Homo sapiens: one gene and its partner. The protein of the gene in region 2 purifies or fractionates together with the protein of the main gene of each other region. This does not show direct contact. Each region holds a gene or a part of one and is shown on either strand. Other genes may lie near its edges.

What was found.
Region 1: the proteins of TRIM9 (region 2) and DCC purify together in Homo sapiens (affinity purification with western blotting, with the first as the bait; 2 studies listed by BioGRID). This does not show direct contact.

Annotation. Positions count from the first base shown.
Region 1 is NC_000018.10:53,200,634-53,216,692, reverse strand, and holds part of DCC (netrin receptor DCC), read right to left. Parts: intron 11,478-16,059; coding exon 11,329-11,477; intron 9,015-11,328; coding exon 8,876-9,014; intron 1,146-8,875; coding exon 1,096-1,145; intron 1-1,095. UniProt on the Homo sapiens protein: Receptor for netrin required for axon guidance. Mediates axon attraction of neuronal growth cones in the developing nervous system upon ligand binding. Its association with UNC5 proteins may trigger signaling for axon repulsion.
Region 2 is NC_000014.9:50,988,722-51,004,780, forward strand, and holds part of TRIM9 (E3 ubiquitin-protein ligase TRIM9), read right to left. Parts: intron 12,120-16,059; coding exon 11,962-12,119; intron 9,468-11,961; coding exon 9,329-9,467; coding exon of another isoform or gene 9,279-9,328; exon of another isoform or gene 7,343-9,278; intron 1-7,342. UniProt on the Homo sapiens protein: E3 ubiquitin-protein ligase which ubiquitinates itself in cooperation with an E2 enzyme UBE2D2/UBC4 and serves as a targeting signal for proteasomal degradation.

The DNA of each region.
Region 1 (16,059 bases), on a different chromosome or scaffold from region 2:
ACTGAGACAAATCCAATTAACATCACAAGATATGGCTTCCTCATAGATTTTTTACAAAATATGACAAGGCATTTGCACATGGAATGAAGGAATCACTATCAAGTCAGATTCATCGCATACATTTTACTATTACTTTCTCATGATAAGTCAATAAGGAAGATAGTAATTCTTAGGATACTTAAACATAGAAAGAGGTTTGCTAAGGTTGAAAACTTTGCTAAGACCAAATAGTTATGAAAAGAGAAAGCTAGATTTAAAACCCAGAGTATGACTTTTTCTAAGACCTGTATCATTTCTCTGCTGTCTCCCAGAGCTTAGAAATCATTTAGGCCAATTTCCTCACATGAGAAGTACCTAACTGGAGGTCCAAGCATAGTGGCCAGGTGGTGACAGGGTCAAACCAGGTGAATCCTCATTTGTTATACTCTACTAGGTGGCCTTGGCTTATTTCCAACCCTGAGTCACTTGAAATAATGACATGTTTCTAGAAAACTGACCTCTGGCATTAGGCTACTTCAGCAATACTAGCCTAAGTTGAGCTCCTTTGGAAGTCATAGCAACATTCCAGGCCAGGAAAGTTCTAACAACTAGGTAACATCGCTACATAAATATAACTGTATTGAAGTTCAAGAATGGCCTTCAATGACTACATTTATAAAGGAAGAATGGGGATGATGACGAAATATTCAATTCTAAGTAATGTGTTAGGAAACAGTCTTTCTTTCTCCTAATTATTTCAATTTCCTCATCTAGCACATCATCATTGCTATATGATAGACTGGTGAATATAGACGAAGCAGATGTCTTTGTTTCCTTATGGAATAGCCTTTGGCCACTAAAACATTCACAAAATCAATGTTTGTTTAATATTTGTAAATCAAAATATTTGTTTAGAAGTAGACAAATATTTCATTTAATTTACTTAAGTCTGATGGAAGAGGATGTGGGATCAATGTCACTTGCTGTGTTGTTCCAGAACATTTCTGCACATGGAAGCCACTATCCTGTACTCAAGACAGCAGTTGGGTGAGTGAAGGTTATACATGATAGGTAATCTTGATAGGTAATGGAGTAGTGAACATTTAGCCAACTTACTCTTGAATTGACCACTTCCAGGGAGACGTTCTGAGGCGGGGCACTTGGCACTAAAAGGAATCAAACAAATTGTCACAGTTACTGCCAAAATCTTGAAAGAAAAATACCACCTGTCTAGTAAAAAGAGAGTGTGGTTTTGTTTATATAGTTTATAATGATAATTAGGTAGGTTAACCCAGGTAGTACTTCAAAAATTTTTGGAGAGATGAAAAATAACTGTATTTGTCTATTTTTTTTTTCTCATTTCGCTAGCCAGTTAACTTACCTATGTAGGGAGCCCCTAAAACTGTTACGCAAGAGAACGCGGGCAGTGATACCAAACACCACCATTTAATTACAGCCCTCTTGTGATAACTTTCCCAGAGAAACCAATAAAAACACACAGGAGATTTCTTACAGTAGTTTTAAAGGCTTAAGATATTGCGCATTTCAGAATCTGCATAATTTTATGATAAAATTTGTCATTCTAATGGTCAGCCAGGTTTCTTAATCCCTGTAATGCAAACTTTATTAGCTCTTAAAAAGTGAAAAGAAGAAATACTTCTCAGTTCTTTTAGCTGTGTAAAATTAAACCTTATGTGATAAATACAAGCAGGTTGCAAATAGCACTTGATGAGTCAATTCTATTAGCAAAGCAGCAGTATATTTTTCTTTGTAGAGTTTCTAGGTACGGTATTTTGTTTTTCTTGCCTACATTTTTATTTAACTACTCCTTTATAGAAGGAAGAACATATACAGCTCTCTTTTAATACTTATAATAAATATTTACTCTACCAAAAAAGTGAATATTCTATCATGTGAGTAATTTAAAAACAACCACTTATTGAATGGCTTTTATGTGTCAGGAACTACTCTAGATGTCTGGGATGAAAAATAAATGAAATAAAGCTTTTTGCCCCATAATAGGAATAGAAGTAGCATTCAATAAATTGTTAACACATATTAATCTATAAAGTGAGTAGTCCCTATCCTTGTTCCTCACAAATAGATGAGTTTAATAGAAAAGTTCTCAGGCATTTTCAAGAATCTAAGGGCCATTTTTGACATCTTTCCCCTTCTTTTACTAGAATTTGGAAAAAAATCTATGTTTTTCTATAGAGTACTTACATCTGACCATGAATTTATTTATGCCATACTCTGAATTTATCTTCTAAATAGTAATTATCATGAAGACATGATGTGCCACCGATTAATCTTTTATCTTCCAAACTGACATTCAATTAATATTTACTGAATTAATGATTGAATGAGCAAATGAGTACTTACTTATATAGTTCTAGACCTTTCTGGGAATAACAGAAAATGAAATCTTTTTTTTTTATTTTGATTTTGAACTTCTGATCTTAGTGCCTGATGAAGGTTGCAGCCAGTGTAGTTTCTGACAAAATGCTCATCTGCTTGTTTTTCATGAATTAACTCAGCAAGTATTCTTTCAAAAATATTCCACAATTTATAAAATGTTATTTAATTTTTTGAGATTCTTATTCTGATTTTAAAATTAAATACAGAATGTAACCCCAATAAGGAAAAAGATATTTATTCATTTTGATGTTGTATCACCAGTATCAGGAAGAGTTGAAGGCACATGGTGTACACTCAGTAAATAGTTGCTGAATAAATATATTAATAAAAAGTTTATAAATTATAATAAAAATGGTTCCATATTCAGGGTTTGGTCCCAAGTTTTGTTTTGTAAATTTTTAAGTTAAAGTATAAATTGTACTTGTATTATTATTTAATCTATTCTAAACGTTATAATTATTGACATAAAAATTACAATTTAGTTTTTTAAATTGAAGTACTATTTGTAGAATAAAATAACATGCTCTATATCATATAATTTCACAAACTTCCAAAAATGTTATCCTTTAAAAGCAAAGTTTGGAAATAATGTCTTAATATTAAGTGATATTGAGTCACTTCTTTTTTTTTTTTTTTTTTTTTTTTTTTGAGACGGAGTCTCGCTCTGTCACCCAGGCTGGAGTGCAGTGGCACGATCTCAGCTCACTGCAACCTTCGTCTCCCGGGTTCACACCATTCTCCTGCCTCAGCCTCCCAAGTAGCTGGGACTACAGGTGCCCACCACCACGCCCAGTTAACTTTTGCACTTTTAGTAGAGACGGGGTTTCACCATGTTGGTCAGGCTGGTCTCAAACTCCTGACCTCGTGATCCACCCGCCTCGGCCTCCCAAAGTGCTGGGATTACAGGAGTGAGCCACTACGCCCGGCCGAGTCACTTCTTAAACATGAAAGAATATTTCTAGTTTATATTTAATGTTGTAATACTGACATGTCATGCTATATGTTTCTAATAATATTACACTAACTTTTTGATCAATTAGTATCCAAACATAATATCAATTACTAACTGAATTTTTGATAGATAATTGAATTTTGGAAGAAAGAGAAGGTAACATTTATCATGTGTTTTGTTGTAGGTACTGTTCTAGCTGATATGCAACCCTTAAATGTCACTTTCATTTGAGTTTACAAGTGGCATTTAACTCCTTATTTCTAGAAAGCCAAGAAAACTTTAAGAGGATAGATATATATGTGTTCTTTTTTCTGTAGCTACCACAATTTTATAAGCATCAGGGCTGTTTTCTGTATTAAGAATTGAAAGGCAGGCTGGGCATGGTGGCTCACACCTGTAATCCCAGCACTTTGGGAGCCCGAGGGAGGTGGCTCACTTGAGGTCAGGAGTTCGAGACCAGCTTGGCAAATAAGGTGAAAATCTATCTCTATTAAAAATACAAAAAATTAGCCTGGCGTGTGGGTACACTCATGTAGTCCCAGCTACTCCAGAGGTTGAGGCAGGAGAATCACTTGAACCTGGGAGGTGGAGGCTGCAGTGAGCTGAGATTGTGCCACTGCACTCCACCCTGGGCAAGACAGTGAGACTCTGTCTCAAAAAAAAAGAAAAAAAAAAAACAAGAATTGAAAGGCAATAAAATACAATTCTGCTAAAAGTCCTTTTGTAATGGTATTGAAGTAGTTTTTCTGTATTTTTTTACAGTGCACATTTCTTCTCTAACTTTCCACTGATAGCACACTGGCTATTGTTGTCATGTCAGGGAGGAGAGTAGAGAATTTTTTCTACAGTATTTTTAGTGATCAGTTCCTACTCCCTCCTTCTCACTATCAATTTCCATATTATTTGGAGATAGATAGATACAATAGATGCTAGGGCTAGGTGAAAGTGAAGAGAATCCATATCGATTGTTCTTTTCTATATTTGTCTTCCCAAGACGCTTCTTGTTTCATGAGGCAGAAGTGAAAGAACACTTTTCTCTTCAAAATGTCAAATAATTTATTATTTATAATAAATAGGTCCATTCAAGCCAATGAGAGGTGGGGCTGGAAACTTCCCTCAATATGGAGAAGGATGTTGGCTTGAAACTCATGGAGATGAGGTATTTTGTAGGACAGATCAAGTCCCCATAATTGTAAATGAGTCTCCCAAGGCACAGGCACTTGAATTCCTCCCCTCAGCAAATGTATGCTGCCATGTACACAGAATTTATAGACCAAAATAATTCTAATTTATTTTGAGACAGAATTTCTCTCTGTTGCCCAGGCTGGAATGCAGTGGTGTGATCTAGGCTCACTGCAACCTCCGCCTCCCAGGTACAAGTGATTCTCCTGCCTCAGCCTTCCGAGTAGCTGGGGTAACAGGTGTGCACCACCATACCTGGCTAACTTTTAAATTTTTATTGGAGACAGAATTTCACTATGTTGGCCAGACTGTTCTCGAACTTCTGGCCTCAAGTGATCTACCCACCTCAGCTTCCCAAAGTTCTGGGATTACAAGTGTAATTACTGCCCAGCAGTAATTCATATTTATTTTATATTTATTTTATTTTATTTTATTTTTGAGACAGAGTCTCGCTCTGTCACCCAGGCTGCAGTGCAGAGGCACGATCTCGGCTCACTGCAAGCTCCACCTCCTGGGTTCACGCCATTCTCCTGCCTCAGCCTCCCGAGTAGCTGGGACTACAGGCGCCCGCCACCACGCCCAGCTAATTCTTTGGTATTTTTAGTAGAGAGTGGGTTTCACCATGTTAGCCAGGATGCTTTAGATCTCCTGACCTTGTGATCTGCCCGCCTGGGCCTCCCACAGTGCTGGGATTACAAGAGTGAGCCACCATGCCTGGCCAGTAATTCATATTTAATTATAAGCATTTTCCTTTAAAGGCACTTATCATAGAATAAAAGAAACATGTTTCCACAATGAATCTTGCCTCTGAATTTACTAGCTTATGTGGTCTGGCTCTGCTGCTTACTACCTGTTGTGAACTCTTTCTGACTTAGTTTTGTCATCTGTAAAGTAGGGAAAATTTTAGTAGTATCGTGAGGATGAAAGGTAAAGGCAAAGTACTTGGATCAGGGCCTTCCATTAGTAAGTATTCAAGAAATATTAATAACATTCATAAAAATAATAAGCACATTCTTATGTTGCCTATGAAATCAGGTCCTTCTGCATTTGGACACAGGACAAGCTGGCATGGAAACTTTCAATGGTTCATTCGTTCATAAAAGCTCTTAGTGACTTACCAACTAGTGCAAGAGACAGTATTTTGGAACAAATTGGCAAAATTATTTAGATGATCATATGCTGTATAATCTCAGTGGTGTGAAAAAAAAATGGCTCATTGTAAACCAGTGGTTTTCTAGGTGGAGGAATTTGAATAAAAAATAAGGTTTCTACTCAGAAAATAAAGCCGAGCTAAATTAGAGATGACAGCTCATCTGGACAAAGATCTTTACAAGCATCCCAGTAGAACAGGGAAAAAAAAACATAAAGTAATGAAATTGGAAGAAATGTATTTACACTTAACTTTTGCTTTTTTAAAAATTTTTCTATGTCTCAATATATTTTTTATGGTAAGACTCCTGATATGAAAAGAATTATTATGTTCACTATAATACAGATGCATTTAGACACAGTCATATATTAAATTAATATATCAAATTAGTTCCACAAATGGGAAATCCTAAAGATAAGCCTTTGCATACAGAAATTTGCACAGTTTTGACTGAGCTGTCTAATTAATTCGATAAATATTTACTCAGGAAGAAAACAGAGGTGAATATAACAGCATCCTTCATATTTAGGGGTATTTAATATTAATATAATGAGAAAAAGTGAAGTGCACTTTGGTAGAGATAATGTTTATTAAACACTTAAATGTCATACACTTTGTTAGATGTTTACACAGATCAGCCCATTTAATTTTCACAACATCCACCTGTTACAACATACATAAAGTTAACGAAGAAGAGTGCTCCATGACTGAAGACTGGGAAGCAGGTGACTATTAAATGTGATTAAATACAACTCAATGTGATATATGACCTCAGCATGAACAGCTTCAGGACAGAGGAGGAGACATGAGATTGAAGTAGACAGAAAGGAACTGGATAATAAGGAAATGAAAGCCAAGAGCCACACATTTGTGTTGGACATTAAAAGAGATGGGTTGATTGTAAAAATGAATGCAAACGAGGTCACGGTGTCCACTCTAAGAAGCTTATAAAGTCCTTGCTATCTCCTTTCAGTGCATTTGAGAGAGAGAATTTGGTGTCCTTTGCACAGTGATGTTTATTGGGGTTAGGGTCACGAAATACTTTTTTTATACTGACAGACACTGTCTAAGTCCTAAACATTGTAACATTTCCAGAAGATAATTCTTGGACTAATGAATAATAATCTATCTTTCTCACTTATGACATTTAAAACCAAAGTGGAGAATCAGGCCACAGTATTACAGTTCAGAGTGAATGAAATCTACATAAATTATGTAAAACATTCACTTTCATTTGTTTTTCTTTTATTTTTATAATTATAAGTTGTGAAGTAATTTATTCTACCAATAAATATTCTGTTCTGTCTTCAATAACAGAATTGGATGGATGGGCCTAAGAATTACATTAAAAATGATACCAAAGTGGTATTACGTATAAAATACATTTTAAAGTTGAATTTGCAAATGAGCATTATTCCTGTGTTCTCTTTGTACTGTCCTTAATAATATGCATGCCCTTCCTCATTTCACTGATATTGTGTGAAATGTACACCCAGGTACTTTCCCAGAATAAACAATGATAGATCTGTCAAGAAATCACAAGCTAAAGTCATTTTTTAATTAAAAAGATAAATAATTTATAGAATTAAACACACCAAATGGAAATTGTTGCTGAAAAGAGCTAGCTTGTGGCCTTTTTTAATATTCACAAGGGCCTATCGCTACATTTCTGCACCTGCCTGAGTTTTCGTTGGCCCCACATCATATACTTTGATGTATTTTATTTTCACTTTTTATAAAATTTCCCAACCTTTCATGATCATCTAGCAGTTAGGTTTCTAGTTTCCCCTGGCCATTATTTTGTCAAATTTATTCTCTTTATTAAGATTTGTTCCTCTCTTTTATGGCATTCAAAAACAGGTCTAGCCTGGGCAACAAAGTGAGACCCTGCCTCTGCAAAAAATAAAAATATTAGCTGGGTGCTGTGGCCTATGCCTGTAGTTCCAGCTACTCGGGAGGCTTCGGCAGGAAAATCCCTTGAGGCTGGGTGCAGTGGCTCACGCTTGTAATCCCAGCACTATGTGAGGCCAAGGCGGGTGGATCACTTGAGGTCAGGAGTTCCAGACCAGCCTGCTCAGCATGGTGAAACTCTGTCTCTACTAAAAATACAAAAACTAGCCAGGGGTGGTGGCATGCACCTGTAATCCCAGGTACTCAGGAGGCTGGGGGCAGGAGAATCACTTAAACCCGAGAGGTGGAGGTTGCAGTGAGCTGAGACTGCACCACTGCATGCCAACCTGGGTGACAGAGCGAGACTCCGTTTCCAAAAAAGGAAAAGAAAAGAAAAGCCCTTGAGCCCAGGAATAAAGGGTGTAGTGAAGCACAATTGAGTCACTGCACTTCTTGTCTCAAATGTGTGTGTTTGTGTCTATTCTTCCATTTAGTAGGCAACATACACATTTTTCATGCTCAATTTTAATACTTTAAATTTTAATATCAGCTTATTTGGCCTAATTCCTTTTGATATATTTTCTAATTAAGAGGTAAATATAGGGGGATTGTCTATCATTTACACCTTTAATCATCTGCACACTTTTAGATGGGGGAATAAAACATGCCAATCAAAATTAATCCACACATGCACAAATGTGTATTAGAAAATGTAAAGAAATAAAAAATACACAAAGTTTTAGCTCTTAGTCAATAGTCACATTTTGAGGATTACCTATTAGTATATACTGACTCAAGAGTATATACATATGTATATACATATATACATATATATTTATTTAATTTGGAGAAAGGGTCTTACTCTGTTGCCCAGGCTGGAGTGCAGTAGAACGATCACAGCTTACTGCAGTCTTGAACTCCCAGGCTCAAGTGATCCTCCAGAATGAGCCTCCCAAGTAGCTGGGATCGCAGGTGCATGCCACCATATCCAGTTAATTAAAAAAAAAAAAAAAAAACATTTACAGAGATAGGGTCTCACTATGTTGTTCAGGTGGGTCTTGAACTCCTAGGCTTAACTCATCCTCCTGCCTCAGTCTCTTAAAGTGCTAGGATTACCTGTGTGAACTACCACATCCAGCTGGGAGTATGTATCTTGATAGAAAGTTTACATTTAACTGTAATAGTCCATAAAATTTTAGTCAGGAAGCCTTGAAAATGGAATATATGATATATGTGCAATATCATGTCATTATTGTCAATATTATGTCAAATATGTAAAAGGAGTTTCACTGTTTTTAACTTACCGTCAGAAAGTGTAACCACTGTTATATCATCAGTAGAGACGCCCGGACCATAGCGATTATAAGCTAAGAATCGAAGACTATATTCGGTGAATTTTTTCAGGCCTTCCAGTTTATAAGATAGTCCATCAACCTCTATATTCTGGAGACATAAAACACCAAAACTGTTATCAAGGAAGCACATTAAAGTAGAAATGGCACTCATTCTGTGCAATCAGTGAATTGGACATTAGACTCTTACAAACTACACTCCAGCCTTCTAATGAGCTATAAAACCTACCTTGTGACACAGACTCCCCCACTAAAAACCAACTAATCTGTAGACTCCTTGTTAAAACAGCACATGCTATTTTTACAGTCATTAAGTTCCAATTTGTTTAACACTACTCAATGTACTGAATGGTTTGGGTTATTCTACCCACACCTAAACCCTCACAGGCAGAAGGCAGCTTATAACGCCATGGGAACAGAGATTTTCTCCTGTACCCAAAATGGAATAATTCACCAAGAAATAATAGATTTTGTGCTTCTCTTGCTGAAATATACCCACAGCTCTTGAAACTGTCAGACACTTTGCCACAATTTTTATCTCCCAAAATGCTGTTAGATTGGTTGAAATTATTTGAGCCTCTCATGGCTGCAGTAAATGAGATACTGGAGGTGAAGGTTACTGAGGAATCAGATCTTCACACTCACATCTATCTTGGATGATGATGGTTTTGAATTTATTTAAATTGGTTGGCAAAATGCGTTGAAGAGCTAAAATATATAGAAAGGCAGATAAAACAGAAAGTTGAAAAAACAAGAGCAAAAAATAGCTTGAAGATAGCAAGAAAAAAATACAACCCATGATTACATAGGAGGAGCTCTTGTAATGCTTATCTTATAATATAATTTGGGACTGGGCTTGAGCTATTTTTGAATATAAAATATTTCTTATTTTTAAGTAAAAATTCTGATCATGCAGTTTATGTGAAAGCAGGAAGGCCTTTCTATGCTTGACAAGCTTCACAACAAATAATAAGAACTCCCATATCCTGGGGCCAATTTTTGATTTAACTATTGAATATATACATGTCTGTATATATTTTCCTACATGAAGTTGAGAATCTGGAAGTAAATACCTCAACAGTCATACATATATATATGCATTATAAATATGTATACATATATTATATATATGTATACATATATGTATTATATATTATACATAGATATGTATTATATACATATAGATGTATAGATATGTATTATATAATACATACATGTATATATACATAGATATGTATTATATATAATACATGTATATACATAGATATGTAATACATATACATTATATATTATATATACTATATATAACACATACATATACACATATATGTATATATACATATATACATATATGTGTTACAATACATATATGTATATATACATATATACATATATGTGTTACAATACATATATGTATATATACATATATACATATATGTGTTACAATACATATATGTATATATGTGTTACAATACATATATGTGGTATATATGTGTTATAATACATATATGTGGTATATATGTATTATGTATAACACATATATGTATATATACACATGTATATGTATTATATATGTATACGTATATGTATTATATATGTATATGTATATATGTATTATATAATATATAATATATGTATATGTATTATGCTTATATATGTATTATACATGTATAATACATATACGTATATATGTAATATATATGTATTATATAGGTATACATATTATATATACACATATATATGAAACTCAATTTCTATTTTTAACATATGTGTGTGCATGTATCACCAAATAGAATTTTTCAGTTTCATGTGTCTCCCTAAAGACCTTTTTACTTTTAGTTTACCTGAACAGTTAATTTGCTTCTTTTCAGGTGTCTATGCTAACCATTGGGTAGGAGCAAAATGTAAGGAGAAGGAGACTAGGCTTCTCAGAGTAAGTTCTTCTGAAAACATTAAAAAATGGTAGGACACATCCTGATGATGGAAGGGAGTTAGATATAAATGTCTTAGAATGAAAAAAGCAGTTTGGCAAACGCCATTGACTAGGAGGGCAATCACCCCTTAGTCTAAGGAATAAAACTGCAAATGCCTTCCACGACCAGGTGAGTTAATACAAATCTGGTTGCCCACACACGCCAGGCCACTGCAGACTCAACCAAAAAATTGGTATCCTTTCTATTGACTTCACTTTATTGCCCATTTACCTCTTACCACCAGAATTTAATTAAATTGTGTAAAGTTTCCAATAACAAGTGCTTTAAAACTAATCAGCTTTTCAATGAATGTGTTAACACTGGGCTGTTTCAAGAGTTTGCGAGTCTTTTCCTATTTCTCCAGCCCTAGAGCTATCCAATGGATGGAAACATCCAACAGATGGAAGCAGTGTGGTCCATTCCTTCACCTACCTGTTCTTTTCCTGTGGACACCTCAGTGCAGAACAATCTGTAACCTTGGACTGGACCGTTTGCATAGGCAGGGGGTTCCCAGGTAATAAGAATTGAGGTAGGTGAGGTAGATACAGCTTGCAGGTTTTCTACTGGCCCTGGAACTTGCACTGTATAAAAAAATAATAAAGAAAGAAAGAAAAGTGATTAGGATAAGTGGGTTTTTGTTCTCAAAACAAACAAAATTACATTTTTACAGTTCAATAAAATTCTAGGAGTATGTATTTTAGAATAATATGGAATAAGAATATAAAAATATAAACTCTGGAAGCTTTAGAATCGCTTCATTTTAAAATTCATAAGAAAGCTTACATTAACCAAAATTGCCTATTTTATTTTACATTTAGAGAAACTGGTAAAGGAGTACAAGTGACTAAGATAATGGCAGCAAAGAGTGGGATTGTGAATCTAAATTCTTAGTCTGAAAAATTTGCCACTATGCCACTATGTCTTTGCCTGCACATGGCTAATAACTGCAGAAGGAAAAGAGAAAGTACATTTGGAGTACTTGTATATTATGGTTCTACTTATAATTAAAATAGGTCGCACAGCTATGGATAATTTACCACATTGTCTTTCTTTAAGTCAGAGTTTTAAAATCTTGCCTGATTCTGGGTTCATTAAATGAATTTTAGTGTTCCATTTTCAATTCCACTTTTTAGTATTACATTTTCTCTTATTATTGTTACTTAAGAAGGATAAATAACTTGTCTGCTAATGAAATTAGACAGCACAGATCCACAATCGTTTACCTAAAACACTTTTTTTTTTTTTTTCCAGAAACAGAGTCTTGCTCTGTTTCTCAGGCTGGAGTGCAGTGGCATGATCACATCTCACTGCAACCTTGAACTCCTGGGGTCAAGCAATCCTCCTGTCTCAGCTTCCTGAATAGGTAGGACTACAAGCATGCACCATCATGACCAGTTATTTTTTTATTTTTATTTTTTGTAGATACTGGGTCTCACTATGTTGTTGCCCAGGACAGTCTTGAACTCCTGGCAAGCGATCCTCCTGCCTTGGCATCCCGAAGTGCTGGGATTACAGGTGTGAGACACCACACCCAGCCCAGGTATCTTAAGATTTTGAAACTTTCAGATTTTAGAAAAGTAACATAGTATCTGTGCAGGGTTTTTTTTTCTTTTTTCCCTAATGGGGTCTGTAGTAGCACCCTGTTAATCAAATGTAACTATATATTTGCAGTAAAGCATATGATACTCATATCAAATTGTTTACATTGTTAATCAAATGTAACTATATATTTGCAGTAAAGCATATGATATTCATGCCAAATGGGCTCATTAGAGACTATGAATAGCCTAGCATGAGGTCAGGTCAGGTTCAGATACAGAATGTGTTAAGAAAAAGCTTCCATTTTGATTCTCTGCAAATTTTGTATTTTTTCATAATTTTGTATTCCTGCATATGGACCTGTATATAGCTTGTAAATGGTAAATGCAATGGCCACACTATGGTTACCTAAAATCAACAAATGATACCACCATTCCAGGTTTAACTACAGCCTTACTTAATAATGTTGTCTGTGTATTTTCCCCAGGCTTGGATAACACCTAGCTTTGGACAGATATACATTGTAGGCCTGTAATACAGTTCTGAGAGTTTGAACTTCCATAGCAAAAATGGCATAGGAAAAACTGACTGGCATGAATCTGTTGATACACTTCTTAGATCAGCGTGGAACCTAACAGCGTAACTCTGCATCATTTTTCAAGATTTATTCCATGGAACCCAGGCCCCTTATGGTATCACTGCTCATACATTCATTTGGAAAAATATTTCTATTCATGGCAGAACATGTATTAATGTCACCTTCACATATTTCCCATCAGTCCTGGAACCTTGAGATTCCTTGTTCTTAACACTGTATTTTTTTATCTTTACAAATTACTGTGTTTTTTTTCCTTCTTGCCATTAAAAAGGTATTAAATAATTTAAAACCAAAGGAAATTTTAAGAATGAGGATAGTGCATAGAACAGCCATGTTTCCTTTATCCAGACTTACCTATTGTCAACACTTTGAAATATATATACCAAAATATTCCTTTCTGTATAATTACATACACACACACACGCACACACACACACACACACACACACACACACACAAGAGAATCTATATATCATCAGAATAAGCTACCCAAATCATTTCTCCTTAATCCTAAATACTTTGGTACATATTTCTTAAAAATAAATGTGTATATGAATAGTATAGTTCTCAACTTCAGTGAATTTAATATTAACACAATACTTTTATCTAATCTTCATCTGCATTTTGGCAACTGACCAATAATGTCATTTGTGTAGCACTCCCCTCACCAATTTAGGATCCAGTTTAGGGTCAGGTTTTGTTGCCATGTCTTTCCAGGCTGCTGTGAGTTGGAACAGTACTAAATACATTGACTTTCAGGCAACTGATATTTTTAAAGAATCTAGCCCCTTTTTATAAATAAAATGTTCATCATTTTGAATGTGTCTCTGTCTCATGTTAGACTTAGGTTATGCATTCAGACAAATGAAATGTAAATGATCTGTTCTCAGGGCATCACATCCAGAGGCACAAGCTCTCTCTCTGGCCTCATTTATGATTCCAGAACTGAGTACTTGGCCAAGCAGAATTTGAAGGTCCCCTACGCCTTCCCAGCCCTCTACTCTACCACTTACAACTAATAAGCAACCCATGGGGAGATAACATTAGGACCATATAAATATGCTTGTTATCAACATTTCCCATAGATTTAGCATCTACTAATGGTTCTTGATGGAGTCCATTTCTAGCATGGTGGTTACAAAATAATGATTTTTTTTCCTATTCCAGCATTCCTTTCTCTACATTTACTTGTTGACACTTAGCATTTGACTATAAGCAAAAGTCCATATTTTTCTCTTTTGTGAATCTTTTATTTCAATGGGCACATGGATTCCTTTTTATAATCTATAATTCATTATTGTCCTTAATTATACTGGTGTTCAAATTTACCCAGATTCAACTAGGGAAGCTCTTTTTAATCGTTTTTCTCTGTCCCTGTGACATGCCCCATTGTTTATTGGAGTACCTCTTTTCTTTTTGGCATAATATGTTCCAGGCTCATCTTGATCTTGCCTCAGCTCTAGAAAAAGACATTCCTTCAAGGTTTTCTGGTTCTTTTAGTGGGGAATGGTATAAAGACAAATATTTGAATCCTAGGTGTATAAGTTGCTACTTGAGTGCATTTGCTTCTAGGTCTTTTTGGTGAACAGAGCTAAGAAACATGTGTGCATGCATACATACGCACACACATATATTTACACAAATGTTTATATACATATACACAGACAGTACATATGTTTCATGACTCCAAAGTAATGCATCCCATTCCAATCCATCTCTACTGGGTTTTGTCTTGCTCTCCTCATTCCTCTTTGATGTGTTATTTCACAGAAAGAACCCTTACTCCTAGAGAGTTGTATTTTCACAGACACTTTATGAGTGTCTCCACTTCAATATTCTTCCAGGAAGAAATACTTTTTCTATGAAAAAGCTCTATGTTCCAAAAAGGAGACTTTAAGAGAAAAAGTTGAACAACGAGGAGTCTTAAAGTGTACAGTGATGCATTAGTATTGTGTTATAACAAAGCAGACATTTCCTTAATGGGAAAAAAATGAAACAAAGCAAACCAAAAATGTGTCCACTAATATTGTTCAAGTGGATGGTCACAGTACTGTATTTTAAAGAAAAAAACATAAATAATTTGTATGCTTATACTATTATTGATATATTCACAAAGACAACGCACATATTTCAAGAGGGGACATTTCTGATTCTGAACCTATTATTCCTCTACAGAAGGCAGAGAAAGGAACGAGAACATTGAGACTGAATGACCTGTTAAGATATATGCCGTATGTGAGGGATCCAGAATTGTGATATGGTGCAGACAGTGCATAAACATGTGGCCCAGTTGATAAGTAAAGTACTCATTGAATGTGTTCCTTCTTGCTCTCTTGTGGCCACATGGAAAGGGTGTTCTTTGTTGTGAACATGGCTCAATCTGGGAGCAGAGATTTGGATTTTAAAATGACCCAACTCCAAGGGCATCACTCCTCCTGTGACTTGTAACACATTCAAAGCAGGTGAGAGCTGAGCCCTAGTTTCCCAAACAGAACCACTCCAGGAGGACTGGGAGATGAGTGGGTATCTGGGGGAAGGGAAAGGGAGGCAGTGTGTGGGAAGTTTCTGCTCATCTCTCCCACTAGAGCACAATGGGGTGATGTGACACAATTCAAATGGACTCCAAGTTTCAAGGGGCAAAGGAGAAGAAAATGCACCTTATCTGATCCACCACATGCATAGTAGGTGGCAAATTTGCTGAGAAGGAAGGAGTGTGAGGTGTGCCCATATCACTCAGAGTTTTCTGAGGTTCCAAGTGTGGCACGGAAGAGAAGCTGCAAATGAACTGTTCATCCAGAGTGAAACCTATGAGAATATGGAAGAGCAATCTGAGAGAGCTACTTAGCAATGTAGGGGCTGTGTATGGTCTGGAGCGGGAGGTCATGCACAGCCTTACCTGACCATGACTCTGAGAATCATTGAGGCTTGGAAACTTCTGGGAAACAGATATGACAACCACACACACACTTCCGTCAGGCATCATGGGGGAAAATAGACTATAGGAATATCTGCAGCTCAAAGCAGTA
Region 2 (16,059 bases):
GAGAAACACTTTCCAACTGATCCCAGCTTAACTAAACAAGCAATTCTCCCTTCATGCCCTTCCCCATGGGCATGTAGTGCACATGCTGGGTCAGCTGCCTGTAAGTCATCTATACCACTTCACATTACCTTAGATTTCAGGAGTCTTAGAGGGAAGAAACTTAATATCATCAGAGGAGCTGCCATCAAGCTTCCCCTTGAAGTCCCCTGGGATGAGGAACTCATTGCTTCCAGCCAGCTCCCTCTAGTTGGCAGTTATTGCTTATATTGGTCTAGACATACCTCTTTGGGAGCTCCACTCTCCAATTGTAGCGTTACTATCTGGGGCCACATGGAACAGATCACTAGTTCTTCAAGTATTTGAGGCCAGTCACCAATCCTCTTTAAATCTTCCCTTTTCTGGGCTAAATAGAGTCAATGTCCAACCATTTCACTATGTATGGATTCCAAATCCTTTACTCTCCTGGTCATGCCCTCTGGACATGTTCAAAGGCATGAATCAAAGACAATATGACAACATTGAGAACAGTATTGCCACTCCCTGGTTTAGCCGAATCACACTTAACACACATTGAATGTGCACACACCTACTTAAGTGCGTATTCTGCGTTATGCCCATGGGATGCAGGAAGAAGGCACACACTACTTCCTCACCTCCCCTTCAAAACACAACTATCACAATATGGAGAAGGCTTCTCAGCCATTCATATTCTATTATTAAGGACAAAGAGGAATGAGGTTGTCATTTTTTTTTCACAATACATGATACAAAGCTATGTTTCAGGTCACAGCTAATATGCAGGATAATAATTATTATTAATTTTTAACTTTATAGATCACTAGAGAAAAATGAGGAGCTCCTGAAGAGACGTTTAACATCACATCATATTTCATCACACGCAGGGATCCCGTGTGGTTGCAGAGCTTTGCTGAATGAAAGCAGTTTAGCAGGAAAGAGCAATGGAAAACAGTATGTCAATGGCCAAATGTGGTGACTCTAGGCATAACTATAACTCTAGGACGGGACTGTGTTCGTAACGAATACGTATCAAGATATGCTTTCCATCAACTCTGTCAATGACCATCATTTTCCTCTTGCTCTTTCCTGGACTTCTTTCCCTTCCTCACTAGGATTGGCTGGAGTCTGGAGTTAGGGTCTAGATAAGGGCAGAGACCTCTGCTTAAAAAAAGCAATCAAGAATCAACAAAGCAAAGATTGGCTGGGGACCACTTGTATTATTGACTGAGAATATCTAGGTGATGTACTCCTGTTTGGCCACCATATATTTCTTTTGTTTCTTTATTTCTTTTTTAGAGACAGGGTCTCACTTGGTCATCCAGGCTAGAGTGTAGTGGTGTTGATCATAGCTCACTGCAGCCTTGAACTCCTGGGCTCAAGGGATCCTCCTCCCTCAGCATCCTGAGTAGCTGGAACTACAGGTGCATACCACTGCACCTGGCCAATTTTAATTTTTTCTGTAGAGACAAGGTCTTTTTATGTTGCCCAGGCTGGTCTCAAACCACTGGCCTCAAGCAGTCCTCCCACCTCAGCCTCCCCAGTGTTGAGATTACAGGCATGAGCCATGGCACCCAGCCCATATATTTCTTTTATTTGTTCATTAGCCAACGCTATTGAACACCTGTCATGTGCCAGACATTGCAGTAGAATTGAGCCGTTGGGAAACATAAAGTTGGCAGGAGACTCAACCATAAGAAAAATAATAATTTAGAGAAAATCAGTGTCATATATTATTGATTGGTTTTTACACTTCTGGGGGTGGAATTTCTTGACTGACTCCAAGGACAGAGTACTAAAGATTTTTGCAGATGTTGTAGAATATTTGAAAAGGTAGCCTTTGGGGTGTTATTTTTGGAATCTAAAGAGGAAAAGCAAACAGATTGTGGTTGCTTATGATAGTGTATACTAATCCAGTGCCCTCTGTGTCCTGGTAGAAGTCTGGGTTGTCCTCCTGTCTGGCAGTGAACAACTTCATAACTTAAGCAGCCCTTGAACCCAGGTCCAATAAGATGGTTGTATTTTGGAGCACGGTAAGGCAAGACATGTCACGAAGAATTGTACAGTGTTAAAGATGAGTTTCAACTCAATTATAAACCAGCTGTAAAATAATTTGCTTTTGTTGGGAAGATTTTAAAAGAGACAAAGAAATGAATGAAGAATGAGGCTGTTTTCATAAATGGTCTTATAAGCAGCCAAAGTCACAATTATGTCCAACTGGTACATAATTTATAATAAAAGGTGGTATTTTAAGCTTTGTTAAGTGTGGCATTAATTGCAATTGAGAAGTGAGAAACAAATCTGTTTTGAAAACCTTCTTTTAGAAGAATGAAACAGCTTTTGCCACCCCAAGGACAGATGCATACTTCATCACCAAGTTCTCCACTCCAATTTAGAATACCATGGCATTATTTATAAGGAACTATCATCAGAGGAACTGAAAATTCCTGTATTTCAATTACATACAGAGGATTCCAAAGAATGAAACTGCTTTCCAGGGTATCAGTTGCAAAGCACACTTCCCAGAACCAAAAATAGGGTTCTGAATCTCAGTCCCATGGAAAAATGCAAGAAATTCCCTGGGATATCATGCATGTGTCAAAATTTAAAAGAACAAAGTATCTCTCTTTTCTGGGCTCTGAAACCTATCATTATGCCTCTCACCTTGGATTTTGTAAAATTTACCCAAATATGGTCAGGTATGATTACCTACCTTGAGAACTTTGTCCTGGAAATGCATATTCTTCTAACTATTTTTGGAGAGGCCCAGATGCTCTGGGTCAGGAAAAGCAGAGACAGAAAAACCATCTTTCAGTAGACCATATACATTTCCTTATATGATCCTTTATCAATCATTTTCTATTAGTGTTGAATTTTCAGTATCATAGGCATAACTTTAAGACTCATTATGACCCTTGGAGGAGGCAGGAGGTATCTAATGCTGCTTCATAGCATTTTCTGAAACAACTTTCAACAGCAGTTTTAGAGAGAGAAGCCACAAAGGTACTAATTGTAAAGACTCAGAGGTCCTCAGCTGTAAGTCCATGGTTTTAGAGATGAGAAAACTGAAGTCCAGAGAGGCTAAGGGACATATCCAAGTTACACCACAGCTGTGGAGGGATACAATAGAGACTCAGGTAGGATCAATTCCTGGAGGATAAAATTTTGGGGTGACAAGACTATTGCTGCTCCTTTGTAACCTAGAAATATACAAAAGGTAAAGCTTATGCCACTGGCCCCAGGGCACATTTCAGTGGTCTCAGTGGGGACCAAGGTTTGTGTAGAGGACCTAATAAACCCTAACTGTGTTAAGGATACATCTTTTCTTCTTTAAATAGAGTGTTTAGTTTATGTAGTGGTTAGGGATTGGAAAGGCACACACATCACTGTCCTCCTTGGAATTTTGGCTAGAGGGATTAGATGGGCTGAGGTGTTCCCTGTAGTTGTTCTTCTGACAGGTTCTTTGTTCCTCACAAGGTGACAGCATTTCTGGAGGTCTCAGCACATCAGGGTGCAGTACTTATGCTGGACCAAAATCACTATTAAATATGAGCAAAGGAGCTGGGCACGGTGGCTCATGCCTGTAATCCCAGCACTTTGGGAGGTCAAGGCATGAGGATCGCTTGAGGCCGGGAGTTTGAGACCGGGCTGGGCAACATAGTGAGACCCTGTCTCTACGGAAAAAAAAAAAAGCCAGGTGTGGTGGCATGCCTATAGAGCCAGTTACTAGGGAGGCTGAGGCAGGAGGATCACTTGAGCCCAGGAGGTCAAGGTTACAGTGAGCCACGATCGTGACACTGCACTCCAGCTAGGTGACAGAGTGAGACTCTGTCTCTGGAAAGATAAATGAATGAATGAATGAATGAATAAATAAATAAGTAATTGCAAAAAGATTCTGGACAGATGCATCTGAGGCCAATTTGCATTCAGACAAATGGAAGCATAAGTTTATATTTTGTCTGCACCATTACATCTTTTCTGGGTGGTTTCCTTCAATGCACAGAAGAAGGAGCTACTACAATGAAAGGGGCAGCGTGATGCTGAGAGTCTAATCGGGGAGAAAGACATTTTAATCTTTATGAGTAACATTGTCTAGGCCCACTTTTTAGAAAGCAGTTTTTAAGATGTAGTTTCAAGAATCCCAACCTATTTGTCATTAGATAAAACAATCCTGAAAAATGCTGGGTAGATGGCTTGAGAGCCAGCCCTCTTTTCTCTAATTATCACTGACTACCTTCTCCCCATTTTCCCTCCCAGTTAGGACAGGCAGGGCTGGAAAGCTTCTGTGAATAAATGGCTCTGTGATGTCAACCCAAGCAGGGCTCTGAGTGCCAGACCTCATTTGGTAGTAACTTTCATTTGGTAGTATCAGAGCCTCAGAGATGTAGCTCTGATATTCCTTTTCCTTCCCGGGCAAATCTCGTCACTGCCAGCCAAGAGTATCCACTGGTACCAGTGGGGGAAGGGCCTCTCTAGGTGACCTGCTCACCTGGGATGGGAGGGAGCTGGAGGAAATTTCTGCAAAGACATGAAAATGAGCACAGGACCTGATAAAGAGTTTGGATATTATGCTGGAAATGATGGCCACTCCCACATCTTCTTAAAGCTGGAACGCTACTCTTTTCAACAAGACTCTTTTTTTTTTTTTTGAGATGGAGTTTCACTTTTGTTGCCCAGGCTGGAGTGGAATGGTGCAATCTCAGCTCACCGCAACCTCTGCCTCCCAGGTTCAAGTGATTCTCCTGCCTCAGCCTCCCAAGTAGCTGGGATTACAGGCGCCCGCCACCACACCCAGCTAATTTTGTATTTTTAGTAGAGACAGGGTTTCTCCATGTTGGTCAGGCTGGTCTCGAACTCTTGACCTCAGGAGATCTGCCCAACATGACTGCAAGTAGTAAAGTCCTCCTTCTGGCTGGGATTTCTGGATGAGCATATGAGGCAGCTACACAGCGCTGCTTCATTTTGACAAGGTGTTTTCAGTCACCTTGCAGACAGACTTTGGATAGTTTTCCCTCTCTTTCTTTCCATTTGGTTGAGGGCAAATAGCACTTTTCTAATGTTAGCACCACAGCGGACTGTGCTGAGCATTGGCGGCTTAAAGTCCTGGATCTGACATATTATTATACTTAACCTCTCAGCAGCTCAGTTTCCCATAAGTAGAGAAAGATGACAATAATAATACCTTCCTCATAAAGTATAGTACTAAGAATAATGGGCCATCTAAAAATGTCCACATCTGAATCCCCAGAACCTGTGAATATGTTATTATCCATGGCAAAAGGGACACTGCAGAGGTGATTACATTAAGGATCTTGAGATGGGGGGATTATACTGGATTATCCAGGTGGGCTCAAGGTAATCACAAGGATCCTTATCAAAGGCAGGTAGGGGCTACATGGTGGCTCATGCCTGTCATCCCAGTACTTTGGGAGGCCAAGGGAGGAGGATCACTTGAGGCCAGGAGTTTGAGACAAACCTGGGCAACACAGCAAGACCACATCTCTACAAAAAATTTAAAAAATTAGCCAGACATGGTGGCACATGCCTGTAGTCCTAACTACTCAGGAGGCTGAGGTGGGAGGATTCCTTGAGCCCAGGTGTAGGAGGCTGCAGTGAGCTATGATTGTGCCACTGCACTGCAGCCTGGGTGACAGAGTGTGACCTTGTCTCAAAAAAAAGGAAGGTAGAAAGGTCAGAAAGAGATTGGAAGATGCTACATGTCTGGCTTTGTAGCCACAAAGTCTATCTAAATAGACTAAATAGATAGACTTTGTCCTACAAAGTCAGATGTCTAGCCCCTACCTAAATAGACTTTGTAGGCAGAATCTACTTAGATAGGAAGAGGGAAACTAGAGAAAAATAAACAGAAAATGTCCTATCCTGTTCTCAGCCCTGTATGATTTTTTAAAACAGGAGTACAGCTTGTCTCACACATAGCATAAACCTTAGAACTCTGTGTATTAAGATGGCCTTGCTGTGTAATGTTTTCAACAGATACTCTTTTGCAGATGGTTTCAAAGACTGGCACAGCCATGATGGCTATTAGATGAATTAATTTAAAGATACCCATGACCAAGTTTTGGGGCTTGGGGGCCTTATTTGAAAATTTCATTAAAATTCTTAATTGCTTACAGTTATATTTCATCTTAAGTCAGTGTAATTTGGTTTAGATGTGCAACTGGCGTTTTTTCCATGGGTGTCTTTGATACATCTCCAGGAACTTTGCTTTCAGAGAACTATCCACACTTGGACTCATATAATAATGCATTCTCCTTTCCTTTTCTCTGTCTCTTTTTTTTAAGATGGGGTCTCACTATGTTGCCCAGGCAGGATTCAAACTCCTGGGCTCACAGGATCCTCCCGTCTCAACCTCCCAAGTATCTGGGATTACAGGCATGAGCTACGGCACCTGACTCCTTTCCTTTTCTCTTAATAGCATGTTCTTTATAATTTCCATTGAATTTAATTAATTTTTATTGCTTTCCTAATTCTCCTATAAAAATTTTATCTTCCTGCTAATCCCTTTTCCCTGTTTTTCAGTGTTTATCACAATGTGTAAAAATGGAACTATTTATATGTTTATTTCTCTAAGGCTTGTTTCCTTTTCTAGCTTGTAAACTCCAGGACAGTAGGGATAACGTCTGTTCAACACTCTATACCCACAGCCTAGCACACAGTGGTCACTTATCAAGCACTGCCCAATAAATAGACAGATAAATTTGCTTTCGAAGAAAAAACCAATCAAAATTTATAGTAATGTAGACATTTGATCTCCCCTGCATAACGTTACCTTTAGATCAGCAAAAGGTTTTGTGAAAGCTCACAGAGTACAAAAGATGAGCAATTTAAACCTCAGACTAAATGCATGTGATTACAAGTTAGACTTGTTACCGCATATGAAATTTTACCTTTCTGTGATACAGAATTTTTGTTTTGAAGTTTGAAAAGGGATTAACTCTTGCTAAGAAGAAGGTGAAAGATTTTGTTACACTAGAAAGCCAGAACGCACCACCCCACCACCCCCAATACCAGCAAAGAAAAAAAAAATCTCTAAAGCAAACCTTTCTGGAAACTGTAGGAAATAAGATTAATAAAGCATAAGTGCAGTGAATGTACCAAAACTCTGTTAATAGCATTTTTCTCACTGATTTCTAAAAAACAAACAAAAAAGAGATAATTATTTGATCCTATAGGCTTTGTCTATTGTTACAGATCGATCATATCTTTTTTTTTAAAATAAGCTATTCACTATATTTTTTCTTGCTTTCTAAATCTTGTCTCACTGAATGTATTAGAATGAGGGAGAAACAAATAGAACAAACCAAAGTTATGGAGAAAGTATGTGTGTGAACTTTATTTCATCATGAGAAAATTACTTCTGTGCAGTAACAGAGAATACTGATATCTATATGATGATAGGCTTTTCTTTGTATTCAGATACATACCTTATATTTGTACACAATATATAAAATTCATGGAGGAAATTAATTTCTACAGTACAGTTTCTTTGTTGGAAGAGAACTTGTTCCGTTTGTTTCATCTAGAAAATGACCCCCAGTTCTGTGACTGTGGTACCAAGGATCGCAGTTCCAATCCTGTAATTTATTAAATTAGACACCATAATCTTATGAACATTAAAATAAACTGAGGCGCTACATCCTCCTGCAGGATGAAACGAGAGACATAAGTGCTCAGGCTGTTATGCTAATAACTGATTTTTACCAGAATAGTATGATTCCCATGATGTATTATGAATAGAAATAGTTTTCCCGCAGATCTGATAACACATATTAGCAACATTGCTACAAATTTCTCTCTGCTCTGCAGGCATGCACTTCACTCTTCAATCAAACCACCTTGTACACACATGGGAAATGAGGCCATCACCAGCAAGGGCCTTCTGCGTTGCATCTAGGAAAGACTCTTGGAGGGCTTTAGCAGTTAGTATGGTATTTTGAGAAAAGAGGCAACTGCTCTCAAACTGATAGGTCATCCCTGAGAGAAGGTGCTAAAATGATAATTCTGGGGGAAGCTGTAGCTACCACATCACTGTACTCCAAATGGGAACAGGTCATGTGGGCATTTTCCCTCAGCATATCCTTCTCTTGGAATAGCATCACTTAGACTGACAACTGCTCCCCAAAGCACTGTTTTCACGGCTAGGGGCCTTTCATCCTTGCTGTAGGATTCAAAATTGTGCTTGTTTTTAACCATGTGAAGCATTTTAGGGTGACTGGCACATGTTGAGGTTTGTGGGAAGTGGGAAAAAAAACACCACCATAGTTCTTTTAGCTAACATCTTGAACTTGAACAAAATCAACATAATTAGTTCTGCAGAGGGAAGTTATGGAGAATCCCGGTGAGGTGGGGGGGTGATTTCTTTGATTAAAATGACACCCCAAAGTGTCAGAATGCTTTGGCACCAGCCACAAATACCTCCTTGTAGGTTTAATTTCATGTGTCTTGCTTACTCTTAAAATGAAAATGTTAAAAGCCTCAGAGGTTATATCTGGCCATCAAATTCAAGCCTCTCATCTGAGACACATTACTTGTCTTTGATGACCAAAATATTTAAAGTATAGCTAAGAAGCAAAAATTCTCTAGAGATGAACCTTGTATGGTGGCTCTCGGTAGCCTAGCCAAGACTGAAGGGACTGGCAAAGATGAAAATGGCGGGTAATGCGAAGTTGCTGGTCTCTTCCTGTTTGGTGCCCACAGGAAGTCTCAATCCTGGTGCTGACGGCCTCCGCTTTGGGTATGAAACGGAGGCAGTCTAAGTGGGTAAGCCAGGAGCAGCCAACAGGCCCTCTCTAAACAGCTCTAGCACCCCACCACCCATTTGAAACACATTCAGTCATACAAATCCACGACTGGAAAGAACCTAGGTCCCACCCTCAGAACAAGCAAGTACTACAGAGTAATTTAGAATCATCTGGGCAAAACTGGCACATGATGTGTATCGGTGGAGAATGGGAGCCTGCTCTAGAGCCTAGATACATTTGTCTTACACACCAGGGGCACATTCAGGCCTTCATTTTTCAGCTTCTTCAACTGCAGCTTATTTAGATTGTTATCAAAGGAAGCCGCCGGCCCAAGCCATTGGAACTGCCGATGTGGAATCTTTGGTTTGATCACATCCACATACCATAGGCTCTCTAAAGGCAGGAGAGGAACAGCGGCTCTGTGCAGAATGCAGAGCAAGTCATGGAAACACTTCAGGAATGTGGGCAGTGGTGGGGTTACCTCCGGGCTTGCCAGCCACTTTAGATGCCACGCAGTTCTCGCTCTGAGGGATACTGCTGAAGGGCCTTACCCTCAGACGTTTGGAGGACCAGGGTCTTGCTGTACGGGCTGACTCCTGTTTTGTTGAAGGCCTTGACCCGAGCGTTGTATGTGCTGTTGAAGTGAAGACCATCCACAGTGCACATTGTCTCCTTCCCCACATACACCTCCTGAGAGTCAGCAAAGAACAGGACAGCACTTAGCCTGCCCCCTTCTGAGGGGCGAGGGAGGCAGTGTCGCTCAGTGGTTAGGAGCAAGAGCCCTGGTGTCATTCTAATCTGGATTTGAATCCTGTGAGATATTGGGCCATTTAATTTACCTTTTTAGCCTCAGTTTCCTAATCTGTAAAATGGGATAATAATATCCACCTTATGAGGTTGGTGTGAGGATTACTTAATGTTGTATATGCAGATTAGCGTCATGCCTTGTATTTAGCATGGGCCAGGCAGCCTAATGAATGGTAGTTATTAGCAGCTAGGGCTTAAAAAAAATAAAACTGAGTGCTTATAGTTCAGATTACACTTATTAACTTGGGATTGGTACAGTATATAGCCCCTACTGAGCTCCTTATCCATCAGTATGGTTTGTAAAAAACATGTTTGAAACCATGAAAACAGGAAGGTGGTCTCTATCCTATGTTTAGAACTCCGCTGATAACTTCAGAACTGTCACAGAGATTACACTCCAAGCCACCGGGGATAGGTTTTCATCACAGTACAGAGGGAAGGGGGAGGAAACAGGGAAAGGAGGAAGAATGACATTTCAAAGGCTTAAAATAAATCCTAGCATAATGCGTCTTTAGCATAGGTTAGGCATTTGCCTCCCTCTTCAGCTGTACACATTGCAAAATTATGCTGATGTAATGAATAAAAATAATTTGCATTCAAAGCACAGCCTTAATATGACAACTCTCTGGTAGGATACTAAGAAGACCACGGTCTTGGATCACCCATCAATTCATTACTCCTGCTGGAATAACAAAAATTGGAATATTATGTCCTCTCATTCAGTGCTTCTCAAACTTTACGTGCATATGAATCACCTGAGGATCTTGTAAAAATGCAGTTGCTGATCCAGTAGGTGTCTGGGGTAGGGTCTCGATTTTGCATTTTTAACAAGTTCCCAGGTGAAACCAATGCTGCTGGGGGAGGACCGCACTTTTGAGTAGAGGAAAAAGTCAAGACAAAATAAGATAATTATTTAAAGAATTGGGAAAACCGGGAGAGTTACTTTCCCAGGAGAAAAAAAAGATAATAAAGGGAAAAGAAAGGCCCTGAAAATGACACAGGCACTGAAAAGGCAAAGTCAGGAATGAGAAACTGACAAATAGGATTTTACACACACACAACACACACACACACACTCTCACACACACTGCAAAAGACATGAAATGGAACCTGAGGCCCTTATCTTGGAAAGAAAGAAATTAGATTTTATCATGCCAATAAATCAACATATATGTAAATAAGGCTTCTCTATCAAAAGAGAGAACCTTTGTCCTTGAGGAGAATTGTAGAAGACAAGGCCCCTGCTCTCAAGTACTTAAACCTAGTGGGGGATCAAAAACACATTCAGGAAAAGGGGGCCTTGAGAGGCTTTGCTCTTGAAAGCTAGTGGCTCAGGTTTGGCTATTGGTGACCAGAAGAAAGCCTCATCCTCACGGGCCTGAGGTTTTTTTAGACAGGGGTCTCCTCTTCATCAGTGCAGGAACTGGCCTCAGTCCCCAGAACGGCTGCTCCCTTAGGAAGCTCCAAGCATCAGAACTTCCAGGCAAGACTAGGGTGGAGAGGATGGAAAGTAGGGTGGCAGGGAGAGGATGGATGAGAATGAAGCTCTGTATGAGAGAAGCAGACACATGCCGGCAGGTGGTGGCACATGAATCATCAATCTGGTGGTACCACAGCTGTGTCTTACCAGGAGGCCATTCTGTCCTGCCTTCAGAGGGCAGCATGAGCTTCTCAATGGGGATAGGGCTCCCTCACCTTGGGAAGGTAGCAATCTTCTGGTACCAGTTCTATCTGGTGAAAGGCCCAGAACAAAACTATAGAACTGGGGAAACCTTTGCTAGAAAGGTTGCTTAGAATAGGGAAGCTATAACAGGAGACCATGTCAATTAAGAGGAATGCCAATCAAAGACATTAGAAGCTGTGGATTGCAGAAATAAATCTTGGACAACGGTTAATTATATTATTAGCAATAAGCAATGATGGTAATAATAATAACTAATAATGAACGCTTGCTATGTTCTAGGCAGCATGCTAAGAATTTTGTATGAATTATCTAATGGACTCTTAGCAACAAAGCATGAGATTCACGCTATTGTTATCATCCCTCTAGTTAATAAATGAGGACCTGAAGACTCAAAGGGGTGATAATTAGGCATTGTCCACATAGCTAGGGTGGAGGAGACCAACTTGAATGCAGGCAGTCTGACTCCAGTACTGCATGTCCTGTCTCATAAGAAGGGTAGGGCAGTTTCAGAGACTGCTCCATCCACCTTCACGGTAGAGGGAGAAAGCAGGCTTCAGGTGAAGGGCAGGCAGGCCCTGCCAGGATGGCCTGTCCCCAGGAGAGATGGGGAAGCCAGCCCTGAGACTCCCTGGCAGGTCCTCTGACAGAGTCACTGCTTTGGGTTAACAAGTACGTAGTGGGCTGTCTACTGACCCGGAATTGACCACCGTTGCCATCATCCAGCTCCAGAATGTATCCATCGGCGGGCACCGTGGACAGAGGTGGCTGTTTCCAGGACAACGTAGCGCTGTTGTTGTGGGTACAACATTCCTCCAGCTGTAGGATAGGGGTTGCTGGGACTGGAGAGGAAGCTAAACAGAAATTAGTGTAACTCTGGCTTCTGTTAAGCTGCAGATATTCCAGTATCTTAGAATGACAAGCATCCCCCTGATAAACACGTGGTTAGAAGTAGCCAGAATGGGGTGCACAGGGGAACTGAACAGGATCCTTCACAGAGTCCCCAGGAGTCAGACTGGCTCCTGATTTGCTGTGAGGCCATTTTCTAAGCGCACAGTGGCCCTTCCCACCTTCATTGTGGCTGTTGGAGGGGAGACAGGCAGATTCACAGAACTGTGTTCTCATCCCCTTGAACATTGAAGACATTATCCCTAAAGGAAATGTTTTACATGGAGGCTGGGGTTCCAGTCCAACCCACTAAAGCATATTTAACTTATAACGTGCCTGAAGCTGTGCTAATAATTTTTTTTTTTTTTTTTTTGAGATGGAGTGTCGCTCTGTCGCCCAGGTTGGAGTGCAGCGGCACAATCTCGGCTCACTGCAAGCTCCGCCTCCCGGGTTCACACCATTCTCCTGCCTCAGCCTCCGGAGTAGCTGGGACTACAGGCGCCCGCCACCACGCCCGGCTAATTTTTTGTATTTTTAGTAGAGACGGGGTTTCACTGTGTTAGCCAGGATGGTCTTGATCTCCTGACCTCGTGATCCGCCCGCCTCTGCCTCCCAAAGTGCTGGGATTACAGGCGTGAGCCACCGCGCCCGGCCGCTGTGCTAATAATTTTATCATAAAACTTATTCTGAGATTGAAACCCAAGTTAATAAACCAGAGACTGCCTATTCTGAGAAATAGCTCTGAAACCACTACATTTCCAATATTCCATCATTTTTTTTTAAAACCAGTGATTCTACTCCACGTCTTCTGCACGTAAGTAGCTACAACAGTGGATTTTTGAAAATTTGGATCCAAGTGAGATCACAGTGATCTCTCCGTTTCAAAACTTCCGAGGAACCTGATGTCATTCTCTCAAGGTAGCTATACCTCGAAAACAGCACTAGGTCAAGTCTACTCATTTTCAGGTATAGAACACCCACTGTGAGCCTGGTGCGTGGACTAGGGGCCTGGAGCATGACAAGGAGGCTCAAGATGTCTTTGCAGCCACGTGAGAGTCTGTCATGCTGTTACGAGTCAAAACACCACCCTCCACATTTTATACTGTGACTCTTTTCTAGTACTTAAACTGCAAATTAGTTGAGCCTTCAGACACACATAGAAATATTAGTTACTGAATAATCCCAGTTCTTCACATATAAACTTAATATATGTAGTTGGGAACCATGGTTTTGTGTGTGTGTGTGTGTGTGTTTTTCTTTTTTTTGAGACGCAGTCTCGCTCTGTCGTCCAGGCTGGAGTGCAGTGGCACGATCTCGGCTCACTGCAAGCTCCGCCTCCCAGGTTCGTACTATTCTCCTGTCTCAGCCTCCCGAGTAGCTGGGACTACAGGCCCCTGCCACCACGGCTGGCTGATTTTTTTTTTTTCTTTTTGGTATTTTTAGTAGAGACGGGGTTTCACCGTGTTAGCCAAGATGGTCTCGATCTACTGACCTCATGATCCACCTGCCTCGGCCTCCCAAAGTGCTGGGATTAGAGATATGAGCCACCGTGCCCGGCTGGGAACCATGTTTTTGCCAGCTGCTTAAAAATTTTTTTTCAGCACCAAAACATTGATTTATTACTATTATTACTTTAGTACTTTAATAACAGGAGAGAACAGCTTGGACCATATCCAGGGACATTTAGATGAACAAATGTTCATCATGGAACACCTGGTATGCTGTACCAAAATTGGACTCTGTGTCTTGTGCACTGAATTAAATCTATGCCTTGTCAGTCATCCCAACCAAAACAGTGTTTAATTTTACAGCAGTTTAGAAAACAGGTTCTATGGCAGATAACCTAGAAAACAAAAGCAGTGACTGTAACATAAGAAATGAGAAGGTGAAGCCGGTCAATTGTCGTATACTTAAGAAAACACTGTGAGACATTACAATAAAACCATGTCTGAGCTACTAAATCAAACATAGCTAAATCAAAATTAGTGCCTGTTAAAACTGCAGGCAATTGGTTTAGGAGAAGAAATCATGTTTTAAGCTTCAACGGCACAGGGTTTGGATGAAATCTTATCAAAGAGCTACAGCTACTGCAGGCTCAGAAGCCCCAGAAATCCAGATTTGGAGGAAAGGAAATAAATTCATTGTCTTGCTCACTAAATAAACTACAGGACTGGTTGGAAAGAGAAGGACACAGAAGACATAATGCCTTCTAATGAGAGTATCTAAACATAAATAGGCATCACCCAGGAGTCGTAATTGCAGGATTAACTTTAGGTCATTTTAACTACTAGGGACTTTCCTTTTTATTTTAAATTTGTTTTCTTTATTAAAATACATTTTTAACATATTTACTACGGAAGATAAATATAACAAGTTTTGGGAAACCATTCTTCAAAGGGCTTGTAGAGACATGAATGATTCCCCCCGGGGGGTATTTATTCTTAACTGTCCTTATTAGTTAGCGCCCACCATGAAACAATTCCTTATGCTCTTATTTCATTAGCTCCATATTAGTCTTTCTTTTTTCCTTTGTTCATGTTTCAGGTAAGTCTACATTTCATCAATTACAAAAATCAAAGAATAAGATCACAGATGGTTTCAACTTAAATCATGCAAATGCTTACAATGTCTCTGATAAGAAACTCAAATGTACCTGTGTAGACATAGGTATAATTAAAAAAGTAACTGAAATACATGATGTCATGTGTAATTAAAACATCAGAACTTAATTTATAAGCCCTTGGTGGATACAGTTTAAAAGACCAAAAGGATAAAAAAAAAAGGCTAGACTCTCAATAATCTTCAGATCTTGATATTGTCCCAGATTTAGACAAATTAGCAAATGGACAAAAAGTCAAAGGGAGTGGAGAGGAAAAAAAAAAGAAAGAACTAACCCAGAGATATTTGCATCTGTCTGAATCTATTCCTCCATGTGCTGAGAATTAGTTTTCCGTTTTCCTTATTTACCCCCAGTGATGTTGTATATAAAAGGTGAATGTGCCAAAATTACAGCCTCATTAGCAGAAACTCAGGCTGACATTCTAGAAAAATATATTTTATAGTGGGTGTTATGTTATCCTATTTAACTTCATTAGGCACAAAATAAATGGTCTACTAGAAATCCAAAGTACTTTCCAATTAATCTATCTTTTATGGTTTGGAAAAGGATAGCATTACAGTTTCTGGACTGAAATCTAAGGAAGAGCATTGTGTTTTACTGGAACTCCTGTTATTGGGGCTGTCATAGCTATATTGATTTTTACACTTTCTTGATCATTCTGGGGCAGCTTTTGTTTTTTCCTTAAGAATGAATTTCCCCTGACCTGATCAGGGTTCCAGCATTTATCCTTCTTTTAGCCTGTAAAATCAAGCTTTAGGCTAAAAATTCTTCTCTTAAAATACAAGGGGGAAGCTATTCTCACTGACTTCCTTGAAGAGGTCTGGCGGAGCTGTGGTTCAAAATTAAATTTTCCAGTAGCAGCTTCTTATACCAATGTTTTCAAATGTCTTCCCTTTTTAAGGCCACTCTATTTCAAATTCTATCTCACATTTTATTTGTTTAATTTTTTTTTTCAGTGATCTTTCAGATTGTGAACACTCACAACCATCCAGAATTCCTCTGTGAAAGTACACAGGAGTGTGGCAGGGACAAGTGAGAAGAGAAGCTGGGCTCCCAACCTCAACAGGGAACACTAATCATAAGGGATGCTTTCAAGCACTTTACTGAATGCCAGAGAGTGTTGTGAGAGGTTTACAGGTATTCACTCATTTAATTTTCACAATAATCCTATAAAGAAGGTATTGCAATTATCTTTATTGTGCAGCTGAGGAAATGGAAACACAGTAAGGTTTTACAGCTAGTAAGTGGCAGGACTGGCATCTGAAGCCAAGCAGCCTGGCTCCAGA